Linked DNA regions of Homo sapiens. The protein of the gene in region 1 interacts with the protein of each later gene in a pairwise test. Each region holds a gene or a part of one and is shown on either strand. Other genes may lie near its edges.

What was found. Proteins that work in one complex are often made in the same cells at the same time.
Region 2: the proteins of ARX (region 1) and PHF8 interact in binary tests that used the Homo sapiens proteins (3 or more experiments, as listed by UniProt).

Annotation. Positions count from the first base shown.
Region 1 is NC_000023.11:25,001,475-25,006,022, forward strand, and holds the end of ARX (homeobox protein ARX), read right to left. Parts: intron 3,437-4,548; coding exon 3,196-3,436; 3' UTR 2,220-3,195; downstream 1-2,219. UniProt on the Homo sapiens protein: Transcription factor. Binds to specific sequence motif 5'-TAATTA-3' in regulatory elements of target genes, such as histone demethylase KDM5C. Positively modulates transcription of KDM5C.
Region 2 is NC_000023.11:54,041,474-54,049,078, forward strand, and holds the start of PHF8 (histone lysine demethylase PHF8), read right to left. Parts: upstream 3,001-7,605; 5' UTR 2,289-3,000; exon of another isoform or gene 1,638-2,288; intron 1,348-1,637; coding exon of another isoform or gene 1,256-1,347; coding exon 1,158-1,255; intron 1-1,157. UniProt on the Homo sapiens protein: Histone lysine demethylase with selectivity for the di- and monomethyl states that plays a key role cell cycle progression, rDNA transcription and brain development.

The sequences.
Region 1 (4,548 bases):
ATACTCAGAGTTTTTCATGCGTGACATGTCACATGTTTAATGTGGACTTGCTGGAAGTCAGGGGGTCTTTAGCGTGTGATATTTATGGGGAATATTAAGTGCAGAATGAGGTCCCTCCAGCTGGGGAAAGTTGAAAGAATAGGAGGCCCAGGACTGGGCTTGTTTGCAGCATCAGAATGACATAGGATTAAGAGTTTGTAAAACAAGGCGAGGGGTTCTCATTGGCCAGTAATAAATGTAATCCTTGGAGGTAATTTCACGCAATTTGCTTCTGTTCCATGGAAGGGTCAAATGAGAAAAAATGACTTAAAAAAGAGTTCATTAACAGGAAGAATGGTACTGTTTCTCGTATACCATCCAACTAGCAGCCTAGAGGGGGGAAAAGAAGCCCTACTAAACAAAAAGGCAAAATCGACGCAAAATTGATATCGACCACAACACACACACACACACACAGACACACACACACACACACACACCCAACTCCTTTCCCTCAGTCTTCTCCAGCAGTCCCGTCTCCTCCCCAAACTCTCCAGCGGCCCTGACCACCCCAGGAAAGCGGCTTTCACTCAGGGAGAGCCTGTGGATGTGGAGTCTGAGGGTTTTAGACTCTCAGACCTCCAGTAAGGCCCTAGAAAGTTCCCACCGGGCCTACTAAACCCGGGAACGGAGTGTGTGGTAGGAATGGTAGTTGGCGGCCGCTCCCCATACCCCAGGCCGGGGCCCTTCTTGCGAGTGCCGCCCCCGTGAGTCCAGGGCTAGCGTTGGGTGGCGGTGATCCACCCGACGACCCAAGTGCCAGAAGCGGCCACCAGCCGGCGAGCCGGTTCCGTGAGCTCTCCAACGTTTCGGGCGGGCGGGGTCTCCGGGCGTCTGGACCCGGGGTTGGAGAGGAGGGGATTGAAGTTGGGGGTGAAGGGGGGTGCAGGATAGGAGGCGAGCCCGGGACGTGCGGGCTCCAGCGCCGAAGCTGCCGGGCGGGCTGCCCACACCCAGGTGGGCACAGCGCCTGGCAGGCCGCTGACCTCTGCCCAACCCTGCACCCTCCCCTCGGCCGCGCACACTTGCGCCCTGGGCCGCGAGGGGACCCGGCCCCCCTCCTCCAGGGCGCGCGCGGAGCCCGACGGCCCCAGCCCAGAGAGGCACCCGCGCCCCCCGCGGCGACCGACTGGCCGGCGGCGGCGGCGGCGTGGCGGGGCTGCCGGCCCCAGCTCCGCAATCGCGGTAGTCACGCCGCGGCACCCCCGCACCCCTCCCGCCTGCCCCTCTCCCCAAAGGTCCGGCGCGCTAATTACAGCAAATTGAAACTAATTAAGCTTCTCTTCCCTTTCCCATCACCCTGGGAGCGTCGGCGAGACCCAGCCCCCGCGGGCGGGCTTCCACCAAGCGGTCACCCGGAGGGGCGCGGGCAGGGCCCGGGGGAGGGAGAAGCTGCGGTCCCCGCCGCGAGGAGGGAGGCGTGCGCCGAGGTGGTTAAGGATTGCAAATCTGTTTGGGTCTCCTCACGAAATCTGAGTTGTTTAGATTTTTTTAAATGTATACATTTACCAATGCCTGGATAAGTGATGTAATGACATTTGTCGAGTTAAGATCTGCCATTTGGATACCCCTCGCTGCCTTTCCATCACTACTGCTCCCGCATGTTTCTCTCTCTCTCCCTCCCTCTCTCTCTCTCTCACACACACACGCACACACAACACAATACACACACACACTCCCTCCTCCCTGCGAACATGCCGTGGAGCCCGCCCCCTCGGAAGGGAGCGCCTGGGCTTCTCGCTCTCGCCATTACCTGTCATCTCGGACTGCGCACTTCACTTCCTGGCTACGTGGCACTTTCCAACAGCTCCCTTCGCCTTCCGAGCCAAGACTCCCGCTTGCTTCAAATTTCTGACTCCACCGTCAACAACGCCCACCATCCACCCACCCATCCTGGAACCCACCCCACCTCCGTGGCCCGGGACCCCCAGCTCCCGCTGTGACACGACCCGGGAGAGCCCAGGTGCGCGTGGAAAGTACCGCGGCGGCGTCCTTAACCTTCGTAGGAAATCCGGTTCCCTTTGAGGATCGGATTCAAACCAGGGGCCTCTGCCAGGAAAACGCGTGTGCAGATAATCCCAGGAGATGCCTGGACGCTGGAGCCCACCCTTGACTCCCGGGGGGTGGGGGTGGGGGCTTCTACTGTCCCCTCAGCGCCTGTATGGAGCATTCACACTTCGTTTTGTTAAACATATAATTTTTTTATTTTGAGCGTGACACTTCTCCACTAGATAGCAAGGAAAAGTGGTAACAATTACACATTACACAAAAGTACTGTACCATTGCCTTTATCTTGAAGGTTTCGGAAGCCTCTACAGTTAATAAGTTAAATAAAGGGCTTGAGTACATAAATATTTGTCTAGGAACCCTACCGTATCTACAACACAGTAAGAATCTACGGGAGGACAAACTTTTACCATACCACGCTGAGTGCAATTGCGTTATAACATTTCAAATATACAAAGCTCTGTTCTTTTTTTTTTTTTTTTAATAACAATGGTATGTACAGAATCAATAATCACAGTTTGGTGACTTCAACAGTCCATATTCTAGCAGAGTATTATTTCCCTTTGGTTTGATATAAAAACCTTGGTTGGTGTATGATAAAGAAGAGAACAAGAACAAGACGCCCCTTTCCTTTAAGTGCACTGTTAGCTATCTTACAGGCTCGCATTTGCTTCCCGGGCCCTGGCTTCACGCTGGGGCCCTCGCTGGGGAGATCAACTTCGAGCGCCAAAATGCTATTTAAAAAAAAAAAAGAAAGAAAGAAAGAAAGAAAAGAAAGGCTAAGTGGGGTGTCAGGAGGAAGAGGTTGGGCTTTTTAAATTTTTTACTTCAATATCAGGCGTCTGGGGGAGAAAACCTCCCCGATATTTTCAGGAAAGTAAGAACAAGAGAGAGTGGATGTTGGAGTTGGAGCGAGGTTGGCAGTAGCAGGGGCAGGGGCAGGGGCGGGTGGACAGCCAGCCGAGGAGGTGCCACGTCCCGGAGCGCCGAGGGCTGCCATGCCCGCATCCAGACTGCTGTGAAGGCGGCTGCGCTCTCTCAGTGCCGTCTCGGGAGTGTGCTGGTCCTCTGTTTCCATTTGGTCTTGAGTGGTGCTGAGTGAGGTGACCTTTCGGGGCGCGCGCGGGGCGCGGGTGTGGAGGGCAGCCTTTAGCACACCTCCTTGCCCGTGCTGGTGCCCGGCAGGATGTTGAGCTGCGTGAGCTGCGCCGCGTGCTCCTTGGCCTTGAGCCTCAGCGCGGCTATGCTAGAGGCGCGTCTGTCTGCGGCCGCCGTGGCCGGGTCGGCCAGGGCGCCCGATGCCACTGCGCCCTCCACGGCGGGTGTGGGCTGTCTCAGGAGCGCGGCCGCGGTCGACGCGCTGGTCAGGGGGGCCATTGTGGAAAAGAGCCTGCAGGGAGAGCAAACAGCGCGGTCATGGCCTCGGGAGCTGTGCGCGGCGCCTCGGGCAGCGTCTCCCGCCGCTTGTCGCCGGGGCAGCTGAGGGGCGCGGTACCCACGGGACCCGGATGGGCCGCGGCGGGGAAGTGGGCAGAGGGCGCGGGCGGAAGCTGGACCCCGCAGAGAGGGCTTTCCTGGGGCAGGGAACCGACTGGGGGGAAAAGACCGAGTCCAGATATTCCCCGAGGGGCCGGGCCGGGCCGGGGTCCACAGGCCGGCGTGGAGACCTCAAGCCCCACGGCCCAGTGGCGTGGATTCGGTGGTTTCGCTTAAACGGACGGTTTATTCCAAGGCCAGGGGCTGCAATGACACTATCTCCCAGGAGAGAATGCGGAAGGAGAAAAGGAGAGGAGAGCAAAAGAAGGGAAGGTGGAGGGTGGGAGGGGGGAGGAAAAAAAAGACGGAGAAGGTGGGATTCCAGCTGCCCGGACGCACGCCGCAGGCTCTGAGATCTCCCTCCGGCTCCTTGGCCCGGGACTTTCTGCGCCCTGAAGAAACAGGCCTAGCTCGCCGGCCTCCCGGGCCACCCGCGCCGCCGCGGCCGCCCTTCCGCGCGGGACTCAGCTACCCGCGTCTGGCCAGCGCCTGCGGGTGAGAGTGAAGGGCGACCGCCTGTTGATTTCGGCTCCACGGGCGGGTGTCACCTGCCAGCAGCCCCACATCCTGGCGCGGCGACCCCAGCTGTCTTCCCCGCGCCCCTGTAGCCTCTGGCCTCAGGGAGCCCCCGACCCACGACCCTGGCGCGCGGCGCAAGGCGATGCCCAAGCCTGGGACCCACGCCAGCGCCACCGCCTCCAAGCGGCGACCGAATTACTCCACGTGACGCTTCCACCCCATGCACACAGCACCGGGACATTAGCTGTGGCCGGAGCCGCCCGGGGCCACCGGACACCACCCCCACGCCCACCGCCTTGGAGCGCCCGCGAGCTTTCCCGACCGCCTCCCTGAGGGGTCTGGCTCCAGGCCCGCGGGGCCAATTCCGGATTTCCAGGGTTAGAAATGAGCCCACCTGGGCTCACCGAGCGCCGCCTCCTTCTCCCAAGCCCACTGCTCACTCCTCGC
Region 2 (7,605 bases), about 29 Mb from region 1:
AACAAGCAACAGGAGGAGGGTGCCATACACTGTTTTGTTGTGCTCCAGTGTACAAAGCCCCCTCAAGGTTGTCTTTCCATAGCTGAGATTTAAATCCCATTAATGAAATATTAGTTTTATCGTACACACTAACCTCTCCGGAATTCTGGGTGACAGGTGCTTATGTGCACACACGGTTAACTGAAGGAAATTCATCAGTGGTTTTACTCCTGTTTTACCCAGCATCTATTCTGCTTAATTCAATTTAGTTGGATGGTGCTGCAGATAAATGCTGTAGAAATAAAATACTCTTCCATTTCTGCCTCCATTTATGGAGTACATCCAAACTGCTTTGCAAAGTCAGAAAGGATGTATTTGATAACATTTTATAGCTGAAGACAATGAGGCTCAGAAAAGCAAAGCAACTTGTGCATGGTCACTCTGAAACTAAGTACAAAGCCACAACTTAAATCCCTGTTTATGGACTCAACTACCTCAAATAAGCAACACTGTTTTCCCAAAAGCCAGTGTGTGAGGCAGAACATAATTGTCAGACTATAAAAATGATGACCGGGCACGGTGGCTCACGCCTGTAATCCCAGCACTTTGGGAGGCCGAGGCAGGCAGATCTCCAGAGGTCGGGAGTTCCAGACCAGCCTGATCAACATGGAAAAACACCGTCTCTACTAAAAATACAAAATCAGCTGGGTGTGGTGGTGCATGCCTGTAATCTCAGCTACTTGGAGGCTGGGGCAGGAAAATCGCTTGAACCTGGGAGGCAGAGGTTGCTGTGAGCCGAGATCGCGCCATTGCACTCCAGCCTGGGCAACGAGCGAAACTCCGTCTCGAAAAAAATAAAACAAAATAAAAAATAAAATAGAGAAGAATATAAAAATGATTCTTTGTAACAGGAAAGAAAAGGGGGGGGGGGTCTTATAAATCTAAAAAAACACTCAAAAGAAAAGTGCAAAGAAGAAATACATAGGGGAAAACACAGGAAAAGGAGAAACCAGAGGCTAATGTCAGCTAGGTCCTGTTCTGCAAGGAGAGATGGCAGAACCTGAGTCTGGGAGAGGGGGTCCTGAGCCGGAATCTAAAAACAGAGCTGAGAAAGGAAGAGAGAGCAAGTGAACACACCTGGCCACCGCACCCTGTGTAGCCTGGCCTGCCCTCCTTACCTGCCATGAAACCAGTCCTGGCACATGTCACACTCGATCATGAAGCGGGTCACATCGTAAGGCAGCCGGCAGAGGCAATACACCGGCACCGAGGCCATCTTCGCTCGGCCCTGGAGCGTTCTGCGGCCGGCCAGGTTCGTCGTGTCAAGAGGGGCGGGAGGCGGCAGCACGCGTCCTCTCTGGACGATAGCTAGGCACAAATAACACTTTTTACAGAGTGAATCAGCCCCCGCCCCCCACCCCCTTGCACCAACCCTCAGTTCTCCAATAGAGTTACCGCCGCCGGGATGCAACACAGCTGGTGCGGCTGTAGGGGGCAACCAGAGAAAGTCCACCCGGCCCTTAGAATTTCTTTCACACGTAAAGAACGGAGCTCAACCTTCCAGGCTTCCCACCGCCCCCACACTCTCCACTCCCCACCCCCCACCTTCTTCGGCCCCGTTGTCAGTGATAACTTCTTTCCGGGTTTCAAGAAAATACCTGAAGCCTTTTCGGGAAGCTTCTTTCATCTCTCACTGAACCCTCCCCTAGCTGACCCCTGTTTCACAGGGCTCCCTCTATTATGACGCAAACCACAGCGTCAAAAATGAGGCTGGGGGTATCTCAAGACAAGACCCTCCTCTCACCACCTGAAATAGGGCCAACCAGAGAGAGATAAGGGATCCCTGAAAGTCTCTTCAGGTTACTCAAAGCCTTCACGAACAAGACAGACAAGACTAGGCGCCCAACTCAAATCACAGTTCTGGGGTCGTGTTCGGAGAGTTTAAATAATCCTTTCCATCACTCTCAATATCATTCCTTCCCCGACCAGTCAGGAGTCTCATCACCCCCAAAACTGAAATAAATATAAATCTCTAAACTGACCAGCTCGTTCTGTACTTTAAAGATGACAGGGTTCTGGCTGCATCCCTGAAACTCAAAAGGATCTATTCAAAACCCCTCAAACTGACTAGAATTTCCTCACACTCCCGAAACTAAGCAAGGATTCTTTTGCATCGCTCGGAAACTGGCAGCGTTTCCTTGCAGCCCCCCCTCAAACTGATGAGAGCTCCCTAGTCTCCCCAAATGTTCAGGTACCTCACAGTATATCCTAAAACTGACAGTAATAGCCTCGCAGCCCCCAAAACTTACAGGAATCTTAACGCTTCCCCAACTGACAGGAACCTCCTCACGCCCCAAACCTGACAAGAACGTCTTCAGTCCAGAATCCTACAGGGACCTCCTCATGCTTTGGGCTGCAAGGACTCCACGCCCGCGGAGCTCAGCCCCAGCGACACGCCGGCAGCCGGGCTAGCTCCGGGACTGCGAAGCGCCTCAGCGGAGGCTCGTCCGGTAGTTCCGGCCCCTACGGCGACGCGCGTCGAATTCTGGGATAGTCCCCGTACCGCCGGGAACCTCGCTCGCCTTCCCCTCGAGCCCCCCGCTGGGTCGCGCGGCGCCAGCCGCTCAACGGTGCTTCAGAGCAGCCTCCTCCACAACATTCCCCTCGGCCCGGCCGTTCGGGCCTACTGGAGACCGCGGCTTGGGCCTAGTCTGGCGGCCGCCCGGCGAACGGGCAAGTGGCGTCGTCGCTGGGCCGGCAGGAGATACTCGCGAGCAAACCAACGGGGAAAGAGATGAACCGGCCGCCACGTCCGAGGCACACGGCCCGAAAAGTCGCTGGGAGAAGCCCAGTGGCGGTGGTAGGCAATTCGGAGTAGTCAATAAAGTTTATTCAAAACAATGAGGAAGTTGAGGCGGAGAGGGGAGGAGAAATACGGGATAAACAGCTACCATGTTGAGAGTGGCGGCGCTACCCAGACAACCAAGGCGACCGCCATCTTATGAGGGCTGGACTCGCGAGGTGAGCGCGGCGGAGGCGGGGAACCGCGAGCCGCCGGCTCCCGGGTGACGTCATCGGGGGGGCGGGGCGCCACCTTGAGAAAGGAGGGCGGTTCTCAGCCACCTTTGGACCCGCTCGTCTCTTTAAGGTGCCCAATCGCCGCTGAAGACCTTGAGCCCAGAGGCGGAGAAGCCGCCATCTTAGGCGAGGCAGACGTTTGGCTCCATTTTGAGTGGGGCCCGAAACTTCCTAGCCTTCCCCCTCCTCCGGGCAAACAGGGAGTTCAGCTACCCCGACTCGCACACTCCTCCTCCCCAGCCTTCTCCTCCTATGAGAGGAGGTGAACTCGGTGACTCCAAACTACAAAATTAATAGGTGGCGGCGGGGGCGGGCTTCAGCCGGGGTAGAGGCGGAGTACTCACCGCGGCTCCTGTTCATTGAGCACCTTCGATAGGCTGGGCTCTTTCCCACGGTCTCTGCGTTGTTGGTTCTTCCCCCTGTGAAGGAAGCTCTGTGATTATCACCAAATGAAGGCAGGGGCTTCGAGAAGCCAAGTGACTTGAGTCCCGGAGCAGGGACGTTGAACCTTGTGCCCTGTGCTACCCGCGTTCTGTCCCCAGGCCCTCAGTGTAGTTCCTCTGTAAAGCTGCTGCCAACTCCACAACTCCCTCTGAACTCTTCTTTGACCCTACTGTTTCACTTCAGTTCAAATACAGTTCAAGGATTTGTTTGCACCTGTCCCACAATTTTCTGACTATAGCCTGAGGGGAGGGGAGAGGAGGGGGGATGAGAGGAAAGGCTGAGTTAGTGGAGCTTTGCTGAGTTAGTGGAGCTTCGTACATATGCTTCAAGATGGCCTAGGTTTTCTCAAACATTCTAGAAAATTCTCTAGGAGTTATCTTACTATTTCATTTTCTTAAAGGGTCCCATTGCTTTAAAAAGGAAATGTGTGCGTGCACACAATTTACTAACCAGTGATGGTGGGGTAGGCCCTGGGGATGCAATGGTGAAAACAGGGCCTCTGGAGTGGGAGGGCATCTGCCAGTGCAGGAAACAAAGTTGCGAGTAAACAATTGGAATAGAAGGCACAGTAAGCACACAAATACCACCTGCAAAATGACCTTTGCAAAATGCAACATGAAGCTACAAAAGAGCCTTACAAGCTGCTTGCAGCTGCTGTAAGAAAGACGGCAGGGGGACATGGACGATTAAGTTCACTTAAATAAACAAGCGAGAACATTGTACTCAAAAGGATCAACGTGTACAAATGCATGGAGGCACATAGAAAAATATTTACTAGAAGTTGAATATTGTTGGAACAAGGAAAACAGAAGAGAGATAGGTAGGAGGTCAAACAGTAAAGGGTCACAACATGAAAGATTGCGAAATGCAAAAGAGTTTAGATTGTATGCAGTTAGCAAAAAGAAAACACAGGTTTTTGAGCAGGGGTAGCTTAGTCTCATATTTGTGACTTACCCAGAGGATGGTTTAGGGTTTTTTTTTTTTTTTATGTTTGTTGTTTTAGAGACAAGGTCTCACTCTGTCAACTCAGGCTGGGCGGTCATAGCTCACTGCACCCTAGAACTCCTGGACTCAAGCGGTCCTTCCGCCAGAGCCTCATGAGTAACTGAGACTATAGGCGCACACCACCACACTCGGTTATTTTTTATTTTTTATAGAGCCCAGGCCTCGCTATATTGCTCAGGCTGGTCTCAAACTCCTGGTTTCAGATCCTCTAAAAGCGCTGGGATTACAGGCCTGAGCCACTGCACTGAAAGGTCCAGGTTTAATGGGACCTGAAGCTTATATGGTTTGGGGGAGGAAGGGTGAGACGTCTTTAAGAAAAAAATAGCCGGGCGCGGTGGCTCATGTCTGTAATCCTAGCACTTTGGGAGGCCGAGGCGGGCGGATCACAAGTTCAGGAGTTCGAGACCAGCCTGGCCAACATGGTGAAACGCCATATCTACTAAAAATAAAAATATTAGCCGTGTGTGGTGGCACATGCCTGCAGTCCCACGTACACAGGAGGCTGAGGCAGGAGAATCGCTTGAACACGGGAGGCGGAGGTTGCAGTGATCCGAGACTGTGTCATTGCAGTCCAGCCTGGGTGACAGAGCGAGACTCCATCTCAAAAAAAAAAAAAATGACTTATGAATACAAAATTAGGTTCAAAGGTAGGCAGTAAGAGTATTTCTACAAGCAATTCCTTCACCTGGGTAATAATTACGAAGAGAAGTGATACAAGGCACATGTAAATGTACCATGGGGCCGGGTGCAGATTGCATGTCTGTAATCCCAGCACTTTGGGAGGTCAGGATGGGAGGATCACTTGAGCCCAGGAGTTCAAGACCAGGCTGGGCAACATAGTGAAACCCTGTCTCTACAAAATAAAAATAAAATGAATTTTTAAATAACAAATATCCCATGAAACCCAACCTAAATATATCCCCCAAATCAACTTCCCCTTAGGTGGATCTCAAAAATGTCAGGCAGCTCCAACACCACCTAATGCAAGGGAAAGTATGGCCAGGCCCTCAGTGGAAAGGGACAGCACTTTGAACCAATTGTTGTTTAAATGTATTTTGTGAACTTTATAAAACACATCACCATGTGACCCTATGGAAAGTGACAGGTCCTGCAGTTTAAGATGTCTTAGCTTCACAAGGAGTCAGGAGGAATGAGGCTGTTTCACTAGTGTTGGGGGGAAAAAATTGGTCCAGGATAGTTTGGGAAAGGGTAGAAAAAGATGAGATAATTTGGATATTTTGGAGGTTGACTAGGCAGTGTTTGGAAACTGATAATAGCAGATGAGTGAGTGAAAGGGGTGTGAGTTCACTTCTGGGTTGAGTGTCAGCATAGATGACGGTGCCACTGAATGAACTGGGCTACGCAGAAGAGAAAACAGATTTGGTGGGGAGGAGACTAAATTTAATTTGGACTATGTTGAGTTCAGGTGTGTGTGGAACATTAATTCCCTCACCCAACAGTTCTTTATTAATCTACTATGCATCATGCACTGTGCTAGGTGCTGAGGATGTTGAGGTACCCCAGATAAGGCCCTGGCCTGCATGCAGCTGACAGTCTACTGGCGGAAACAGTCAATGATCAAATAAAATTTCATTAATATGTGAATTTCATTCACATATTTTCTTGAACACCTACTGTTAGGCACTGGGGATTTAGGGGTAAACAAAACAGACAAGTCCCCGCCCTCCTGTGACTCATTTCCAGCAAGGGAGACGGATAAAAAGTGAGGCAAATCAGAGAATTTCCAATTGAGGTGAGTGCTATCAGGAAAGTAAGACCAGTTATGAGATAGAGAATGATTTGAAAGGAAAGCAGTCTATTTTAGATAAGGTAGTCAAGGAAGGGTTCTCAGAGAAGGTGACAGGAGCTGAGACCTGAATAACAAAAAGAGCTAGCTAGGGACAAAGGCAAAAGGAATCAAAAGTGTTGGCCGGGTGTGGTGGCTCACGCCTGTAATCTCAGCACTTTGGGAGGCCGAGGCGGGTGGATCACGAGGTCAAGAGATCCAGACCATCCTGGCCAACATGGTGAAACCCCATCTCTACTAAAAATACAAAAAATTAGCTGGGTGTGGTGGCACGTGCCTGTAGTCCCAGCTACTCAGGAGGCTGAGGCAGGAGAATCGCGTGAACCCGGGAGGCAGAGCTTGCGGTGAGCCGAGATTGTGCCACTGCACTCCAGCCTGGGCGACAGAGCAAGACTCCATCTCAAAAAAAAAAAAAAAAGTGCTAAAGCCCTAAGATGGGGGCAAGAGGACTGGGTGGGCTACAGGTGGGGGTCAGGGTCTCCAAGCCTGAATTAGAGACCCTGTGTGTACCCTTAGGGAATAGACGATCTAATAAATTAACAAAACAAGGAGGCTGGAAAAGGTCAAACCCTAAGTGCTACATAGAGGTTTGAGCAACCTGTGTGGTGTGGGAACAAAGAGGCAGTCACAGTTAATTCAAACACATTCAGTGGGTGTGTGAGGAAAGGCTTCACAAGAGGTAGCATTGGACCTAGGTACAGTGGTTCCTACCCCGACTCCTAAAATTCCTCCCCAGTGTCCTTGAGAGGTGGGGAGTGGACAAAGGATATTAGGAAAGGCAAAGCTGCCAGGGGTCTGAACCAGAGGCAGTCAGATTTGCTGACAAAGCAAGTCTTGCCACTGCTAAGGATGGGAGGCAGCTGGCTGCTGCCCTGGAAATGTGTGGACTGGTCCAGTCTCAGAGGATGCAGCCCATGATGGGACCTGGCTGCCACAGCACCAGGCTGCCCTGGAAGCCTACCTCCCCCATCCCACCTCCATTTAACAGTTGTAAACATTTATTTTTAATAACACAGATTCAGTTCCATCCCATTGTAATGTAAATGCATTCCCATTATAAACATTCAAACAGCCAGGCTGAACTTTCCCCGTGACAGGGCATTTCAATGCCTGCTTACCTCTCTAGAGGGAACCTCAGCAGGATCTTTTCCAATTCATTTCTCTACATATATGTTATAGCTATTGAGGTAAAAAAAAAAAATGATGAGGGCTACAGTGAACTATAAAACACATGAGTGGAAAAGGGGGGATTGGGGGGAAACTTACATGAGGAAAAACAGGTGTCCTCTGAA